Linked DNA regions of Homo sapiens. The protein of the gene in region 1 purifies or fractionates together with the protein of each later gene. This does not show direct contact. Each region holds a gene or a part of one and is shown on either strand. Other genes may lie near its edges. The genes, in order: SCARF2 and TNFRSF13B.

Region 1 (3,806 bases):
GACGCGGGCAGGTTCCGGCTGGCTGGGGGCACCTACTCAAGCACCGGGGCCTTCCACCCCCTCCGCTCCTCCCCTGCAGAGTGCCCGCGCCAGTTCTGGGGCCCCGACTGCAAGGAGCTGTGTAGCTGCCACCCACACGGGCAGTGCGAGGACGTGACAGGCCAGTGTACTTGTCACGCGCGGCGCTGGGGCGCGCGCTGCGAGCATGCGTGCCAGTGCCAGCACGGCACGTGCCACCCGCGGAGCGGCGCGTGCCGCTGTGAGCCCGGCTGGTGGGGCGCGCAGTGCGCCAGCGCGTGCTACTGCAGCGCCACGTCGCGCTGCGACCCACAGACCGGCGCCTGCCTGTGCCACGCAGGCTGGTGGGGCCGCAGCTGCAACAACCAGTGCGCCTGCAACTCGTCTCCCTGCGAGCAGCAGAGCGGCCGCTGTCAGTGCCGCGAGCGTACGTTCGGCGCGCGCTGCGATCGCTACTGCCAGTGCTTCCGCGGCCGCTGCCACCCTGTGGACGGCACGTGTGCCTGCGAGCCGGGCTACCGCGGCAAGTACTGTCGCGAGCCGTGCCCCGCCGGCTTCTACGGCTTGGGCTGTCGCCGCCGGTAAGCGCGGTCTCTCGGCCAGGGAGGGAGGAGGTGGAAGGGCGGGCCGCCGATGGGGACAGGGGTGAGGCGGGTCCCAGCCTTCCCTAGCCTCCGACCCCTCCCCCAGGTGTGGCCAGTGCAAGGGCCAGCAGCCGTGCACGGTGGCCGAGGGCCGCTGCTTGACGTGCGAGCCCGGCTGGAACGGAACCAAGTGCGACCAGCCTTGCGCCACCGGTTTCTATGGCGAGGGCTGCAGCCACCGCTGTCCGCCATGCCGCGACGGGCATGCCTGTAACCATGTCACCGGCAAGTGTACGCGCTGCAACGCGGGCTGGATCGGCGACCGGTGAGCAGCCCTGCCTGCGTCGGCCCAGACACGCAGTCCCCCGCCCTGCCTCCCTAACAAAGGCCCCAATGTCGAGGGCGCTGTGGTCCGTTTGCCTCCATTTCTGCTGACGCCTCCTCCCCTCTTTCCAAGGTGCGAGACCAAGTGTAGCAATGGCACTTACGGCGAGGACTGCGCCTTCGTGTGCGCCGACTGCGGCAGCGGACACTGCGACTTCCAGTCGGGGCGCTGCCTGTGCAGCCCTGGCGTCCACGGGCCCCAGTGAGTGCCCCGGGACCGGGAGGGGGTTGGGGGCTTGTACCTGCCACAGAGGGGGGTCCAGCCGACGAGGTGGCCTCTCCACCCTGAGCTGGGTTATCACCTCAGCCTTGGTCCCTTACCCCAGCTAGGGAGTGACAGTAGGCTCTTTGGGGGCAGTTTCCTGCCTGGATGTCGGGGAGCTCACGTTCAGCGCAGGATCTGGTGACCAGTCCAGCCTGTGTCAGTGGGCTCTTAAGGTGACCCCGAGTTGGTACAGAAGGACCAGGGACCTCCACTTACAGCCAAGGGTCTGGTTCAGCAGCCCCTCTTCCCACCTAGCCGAGTCAGCCCCAGCAGTGGGCGCTGCGGCGCGGCCACCACGGGTCCTATCCCCCAGGCCCCCCCACTAGTGTTGTGCAACATTCGTTTCCAAAACATCCACTACCCAATATGTGCCACGGGCGGGGCGGGGCTTCAATCCCTAGACGACGAATGCAGCGAGAGAGAGCCCGGTTCTGGGACCCTGGACCCTGGGCCCTGGCCGCGGGTGAGGGGTGAGGGTAGGGGGCATCCTAGGGGGGCGGCTGTGGCATGCCTTGACCCTATGTCCCGGCAGCTGTAACGTGACGTGCCCGCCCGGACTCCACGGCGCGGACTGTGCTCAGGCCTGCAGCTGCCACGAGGACACGTGCGACCCGGTCACTGGTGCCTGCCACCTAGGTAAGTGGATGAGGGGCGTCCCGTTAAGGAATGCAGGGGGTGCCAGAAACCGCGCTGACCCCATAACCCCCTACAGAAACCAACCAGCGCAAGGGCGTGATGGGCGCGGGCGCGCTGCTCGTCCTGCTCGTCTGCCTGCTGCTCTCGCTGCTCGGCTGCTGCTGCGCTTGCCGCGGCAAGGACCCTACGCGCCGGTGAGCCCAGATACTGCCCCGCTTTCGCCTGGGTTCAGGCCGCACCCTCTGGGTGCCACCGGACCCAGATCCAACCCTTCCGCGCCCCTGCCCCGGACGTGGCCCCGCCCCTTCTGTGCTTGGCTCCGGCCGAGATCTAATCGCCCCTGGGCCCCGCCCCGGCCCCGCCCCTCCGCTCAGACCCCGCCCCCGCAGGGAGCTTTCGCTTGGGAGGAAGAAGGCGCCGCACCGACTATGCGGGCGCTTCAGTCGCATCAGCATGAAGCTGCCCCGGATCCCGCTCCGGAGGCAGAAACTACCCAAAGTCGTAGGTAAGGATGACAGCGCGGGGTATCTGGGAGAAACACCTCTCGACGCAGGAAGCTGCTGGGAAATGGGTGTGAGGGGGTCCAGATCTCAGTGAGGAAATGGGGGACCTTGAGTGTTGATGTGCGTGGGCGCGAGGAGGTGCGACCAGAGGGAAGGTAAGAGGTGTGGCAGCTGCTGAGGGCGAGGCAAGGTAGGAAGGCAGGAGTCCTAGGTGCGCCGGCTGATGTGGGCATATGTCAGAAACGTTGGCCCTGAGAGTGATCGCATCAGGGGTGTGTGGACATCTGGGTCCCGCAGGCTCCCCCAGTCTGTAGGAGAATGCTGTATATCCCGGCCAGAGCTGCTGGGGGAATGCGTGGCCACGGGAGTGCCCTGCCCCACGGAGAGGACCCACCCTCCTGCCTACATCCCCAGCAGTACCCAGAGATCCTCCTGGAAAGTGGGCAGGCTGGTCCCCACCCACCAACAGGATAGGGGGGTGGGGTGTGCCGCTTCTCTCCATGCTGACTTGCACCTGGGTGGACCCTCTCTTCCTCTCTTTCCCACTTATTTCTAAAGATGGAGGGGAAGGGGGCTCAGACTCTTGGGAGATGAAGGAAACAGCTGAGAAAACCCCTTAGCCAAGCCGGGCATGGTGGCTCATGCCTGTAATCTCAGCACTTTGGGAGGCCGAGGCAGGTGGATCACCTGAGGCCTGGAGTTCAAGACCAGCCTGACCAACATGGAGAAACCCGGTCTCTACTAAAAATACGAAAGTAGCCGGGTGTGGTGGCGCATGCCTATAATCCCAGCTACTCTGGAGGCTGAGGCAAGAGAATCACTTGAACCTGGGAGGCAGAGGTTGCAGGGAGGCAGAGGTTGCAGTGAGCCGAGATCGCACCATTGCACTCCAGCCTGGGCAACAAGAGCAAAACTGTCAAGAAAAAAGAGAAGAGAAGAGAGGAGAGGAGAGGAGAAGAGAAGAGAAGAGAAAAGAAGAAAGAGAAGGAAGGGAGGGAGGGAGGGAGGGAGGGAGGAGAAACCCCAAAACTGTCGAAAGAAAAGAAAAAGCAAGCAAGCAAGAGAGAGAAAACCCCTTGGCCCACCTAGCAGCATGGCATCTGGGGACATAGGTGTGGGGAGTGGACCCCACATCCCTCTGTGGAATGGAGGCCAGGCTAGCCAGCTTCTGGGGCCCCCTGTTGTGGGGTCTGCATCTCTGGAGGCCAGGCCTAGGGTGCAGCTTGCTGAGATGGGCTGAGCCAAAGGGCAGCCCTGCCACTGCGCATTTGGGCTCAGAAGTGCTCCAAGGCTTCCTTATTCGCACAAGGCAGGGCCTAAAACAGAGCTTGGAGGCCTTGGTGGCCTGTCCCAGCCAGGTGTCTTCTTCAGCCCCGTCTCCCACCTTTCTGGCCTTTTCTCAACACGTCAGCCCAA
Region 2 (3,806 bases), on another chromosome or scaffold:
AAAATGCTCTTCTGTTTCCCGCGTGTCTTCGTTGGCACCAGGTGTCTGCCTTCTGTTTGGTTTGAGTTTGCTTTCCTGCTAGAGGCAGTGCTCCCATATCAGGTGACCCTTGGCCATTGGTTCACAAGTCAGACTGAGGCACTGACAGCTGCCTGGAAGTTCTGGGTAAGCAGTTGGGCTCACTGACGTAGAAGCTTTGCCCCAGTGGGATCAGGCAGGGACTTGGACATTTTCTGGAGAGAATCTCCCGCTGTCAGTGCCTCTGGGTCTTTTCCTTTGGGTCTGTTTTCCCAGAGCAGAGACTTCTGATTTCCTGCCAGTTGCAGGGTAGGGAGGGAGGCATCTTTAAAAACCTGGTTGCCACACTCCTTAGATAGAAACTGGGGTGGGTAAGGAGAGGGGAGACTGGCTGTCCAGGAGGAAGATTATCACAATTCCCCTGTTGCCAGGAAGGACCACGTTGCTACCCTCAGCTGTGTCCAAGGAGACCCCACTCTTATGCCTGGGTGGGTGAGGGACTGGCACCTGCCTTGGAATGGGGATGTGCTGGGGTCACACCCTCTTTATGTAAGTTTCCAACCAATCCTCTTACAGAGCTTCACCCCTTCTGCCCAGCCCTGCCGTCAGAGATACGTGGTGCCTCCAAATCTGGAGACTTCCTTGAGTTCTGTGACTCAGAACAACTTCCTTCCCATGTAGGCATCAATGATGAGAGATTCTCAAAGGCAGTCAGGCACTCTGGTTCCTCCATCTCCCAGAATGTTAGAGACATGTGTTCTTTGCTGTAGAAACCTCTGCCATTCCCTTGATCTCTGAAGATAGATGGACTTGACTGTCAGCTTTGCATGGTTTCAGGAGGGAAGGAAGATAAACCCCTGTGTTTAAGCTGCCGTGTTAAATGAGAGGCCCCTGGTCTTTTTTCTTTTCCTTTTTTAGAGACTGGGTCTCACTCTGTTATCCAGGCTGGAGTGCAGTGATGTGGTCATAGCTCACCTCAGCCTTGAACTCTCAGGCTCAAGCGATCCTCCTGTCTCAGCCTCCTGAATAGCTGGGACTACAGCACGTGGCTAATTTTAAAAATCCTTTTGTAGAGACAGGATCTCACTATGTTTCTCAGGCTGATCTTGAACTCCTGGCCTCAAGAAATCCTCCCACCTCTACCTCCCAAAATGCTCGGATTACAGGCATGAGCCATGGTGCCCAGCCACCTCTGGTCTTCCCTCAGCTTGCTTTCGTTAAAGAACAAACACATGCCACTGGGCGTGGTGGCTCATGCCTATAATCCCAGCACTTTGGGAGGCCGACTCGGGCGGATCACGAGGTCAGGAGTTTGAGACCAGACTGGCCAACATAGTGAAACCCGCTCTCTACTAAAAATACAAAAATTAGCCAGACATGGTAGCATGCACTTGTAATCCCAGCTACTTGGGAGGCTGCAGGAGAACTGCTTGAACCCGGGAGGTGGAGGTTGCTGTGAGCCAAGATCACACCCACTGCACTCCAGCCTGGGCAACAGAGAAAGACTCCATCTAAGAAAAAAAAAAGAACAAACATATGCCTTGCAAAATGCTTTTAAGCATTTTTAAGGAGAAGTTATTGGGGGAAGCAAATGTCATGAAATCAGAAGAGGATGGAGAAGGTGATGCATGCACACAGTGGAAGATTCACAGTAACACAAAACCAGACATGCAGAGAGCGCCCACATGGATGAGTCTCAGGCACCAAGTGGAGGAACAAAACCAGACACGGAAGTACCAGAAGGGGCAATATTAGCCTATGAGGGTAACAACAGAACAGTAGCTCCCTCTAGGCATGGGCATTGGGTGTCGGGGGACCCCAGGGAGGCTTCAGGGGTGAGGAAATGTCCTACATCTCCATGTGGGCTGTAATGACACAGGTGCATACATACATCAAATTTCACCAAGCTGTATTCTTCAGCTTTTTGTGCACTTTACACACATCATTGTGGTTGTTTCATACTTTAGTAAAAAAGAAAACAAGAAGGAAATTGACATTCTTGGTTCTTGCTGTGTGCTAGGCACTGAGTTGGTCCGTACTTAAAGAAACCATTCACTTAATGAGCAGGTGCTGTGTCCTAAGTACTATCTAGGTTCTGAGGACTCAGCAATTAATAAGAAAAATTAGGCACAGTCCCTGCCAGATGGTGCTCACAGTTAGTGTAGGAGCCAGCATCAAATAACCACATGCATAGAAGGAAAGTGACCACAGCAACAGGTAAAGGGCAGTGCGAGTGTGTAGAAGAAGGACCGTGTCCTAGTCTAGGGGGTGAGTCAGAAAGGCTTCCCTTGGAGATCAGGTTTAGACAGAGGTCTCAGTCTGAGAAGGAATAAACAGCTGAGGGGCAGGGGCTGGGGAGAAGGGCACGTCATGTGAGGGAACAGCAGGTGCAAAGACCCTGTGGCAGGGAGAGGCGTGGCACGTTAAGGAGGGCAGGGAACAGGGCCCAGTAGGGCACTGCTGATGTGAGAGAGCAGGGGGCCTGAAAACAACCATGTGCAGATGGGGAAACTGAGGCTGGAGAGGGGAGGTGGCTGCCCCAGGCCCCTAGCAAGTGCAGTGGGGGCTAGAAGCCAACTTTGTCTGCCCTCTCTGCTCCTCAGACAGAAAGGTTGTCTGTGCGAATGTGGGCAGGAGAGGCCGTCTTGGTTCCCATCAGGGACAAGAGGCCGGGCTGTGGCCGCCTGCCAGCTGCCCTCACTCTCCTGGTCTCTCAGTTCCACAGGGCCTGTGGACGGGGGTGGCTATGAGATCCTGCCCCGAAGAGCAGTACTGGGATCCTCTGCTGGGTACCTGCATGTCCTGCAAAACCATTTGCAACCATCAGAGCCAGCGCACCTGTGCAGCCTTCTGCAGTGAGTTCTGGGGCCTGAGCCGAGGGGACAGTGTGATCACCCTCCTCCTTTCTCCCTAGAGCACCCTCTGGCCCCACAGTCAGGTGGCTGAGGAAAGGGTGGCAGGAGGAGATGTACAGTGTGGCACCTCTTACCCCTCCACCTTTCTGCTTTGGTCACACAACCTCCTTTCGGTGTCTCAAACACAGTCCATTCTTTCCTGCCTCAGTTCCTTTGCACATGCTATTCCCGCTGCCTGGAATGCATTCCCTCTATCATCTTCCCTCAGCTCCCTCCTACTCAACCTTCAGGTCTCAGCCCAAACGTCAGGGGTCTCCTCTGACCACCCAGTAGAACTAGGCCCTCCCTTGTCACTGTGTGTTGTTACATTCTTTTGAAACTTTTTATTACAGAACTTATCACACATGTACATAGAGAGGACAGCACAATGACGCCCTCTGCACCCATCACCAGCTTCACAAATTGTTTAAATTCTGCCTTGTACTTTCCCAACCAATTTTTTTGACTTGTGTATTTTATTTTATTTATTTTATTTTTTATTTTTATTTTTATTTTTTGAGATGAAGTTTCGCTCTTGTTGCTCAGGCTGGAGTGCAATGGTGCGATCTTGGCTCACCGCAACCTCCACCGCCCGGGTTCAAGTGATTCTCCCTCCTCAGCCTCCCGAGTAGCTGGGATTACAGGCATGTGCCACCACACCCGGCTAATTTTGTATTTTTAGTAGAGATGGGGTTTCTCCATGTTGGTCAGGCTGGTCTTGAACTCCTGACCTTAGGTGATCCACCCACCTCGGCCTCCCAAAGTGCTGGGATTACAGGCGTGAGCCACTGCACCCAGCCTGCCTTGTGTATTTTAAAGCACAGCCAAGATCTCATATAATTTTACCTGCAGATACTGGACCACGAAAACCTGTGAAACATAATCCAAATATCC

Evidence for each region.
Region 2: the proteins of SCARF2 (region 1) and TNFRSF13B purify together in Homo sapiens (co-immunoprecipitation; one large-scale study listed by IntAct). This does not show direct contact.

The regions. Positions count from the first base shown.
Region 1 is NC_000022.11:20,427,811-20,431,616, reverse strand, and holds part of SCARF2 (scavenger receptor class F member 2 isoform 2 precursor), read left to right. Parts: intron 1-79; coding exon 80-599; intron 600-708; coding exon 709-927; intron 928-1,059; coding exon 1,060-1,188; intron 1,189-1,783; coding exon 1,784-1,887; intron 1,888-1,963; coding exon 1,964-2,081; intron 2,082-2,261; coding exon of another isoform or gene 2,262-2,276; coding exon 2,277-2,392; intron 2,393-3,806. UniProt on the Homo sapiens protein: Probable adhesion protein, which mediates homophilic and heterophilic interactions. In contrast to SCARF1, it poorly mediates the binding and degradation of acetylated low density lipoprotein (Ac-LDL).
Region 2 is NC_000017.11:16,951,513-16,955,318, reverse strand, and holds part of TNFRSF13B (tumor necrosis factor receptor superfamily member 13B), read left to right. Parts: intron 1-2,735; coding exon 2,736-2,873; intron 2,874-3,806. UniProt on the Homo sapiens protein: Receptor for TNFSF13/APRIL and TNFSF13B/TALL1/BAFF/BLYS that binds both ligands with similar high affinity. Mediates calcineurin-dependent activation of NF-AT, as well as activation of NF-kappa-B and AP-1.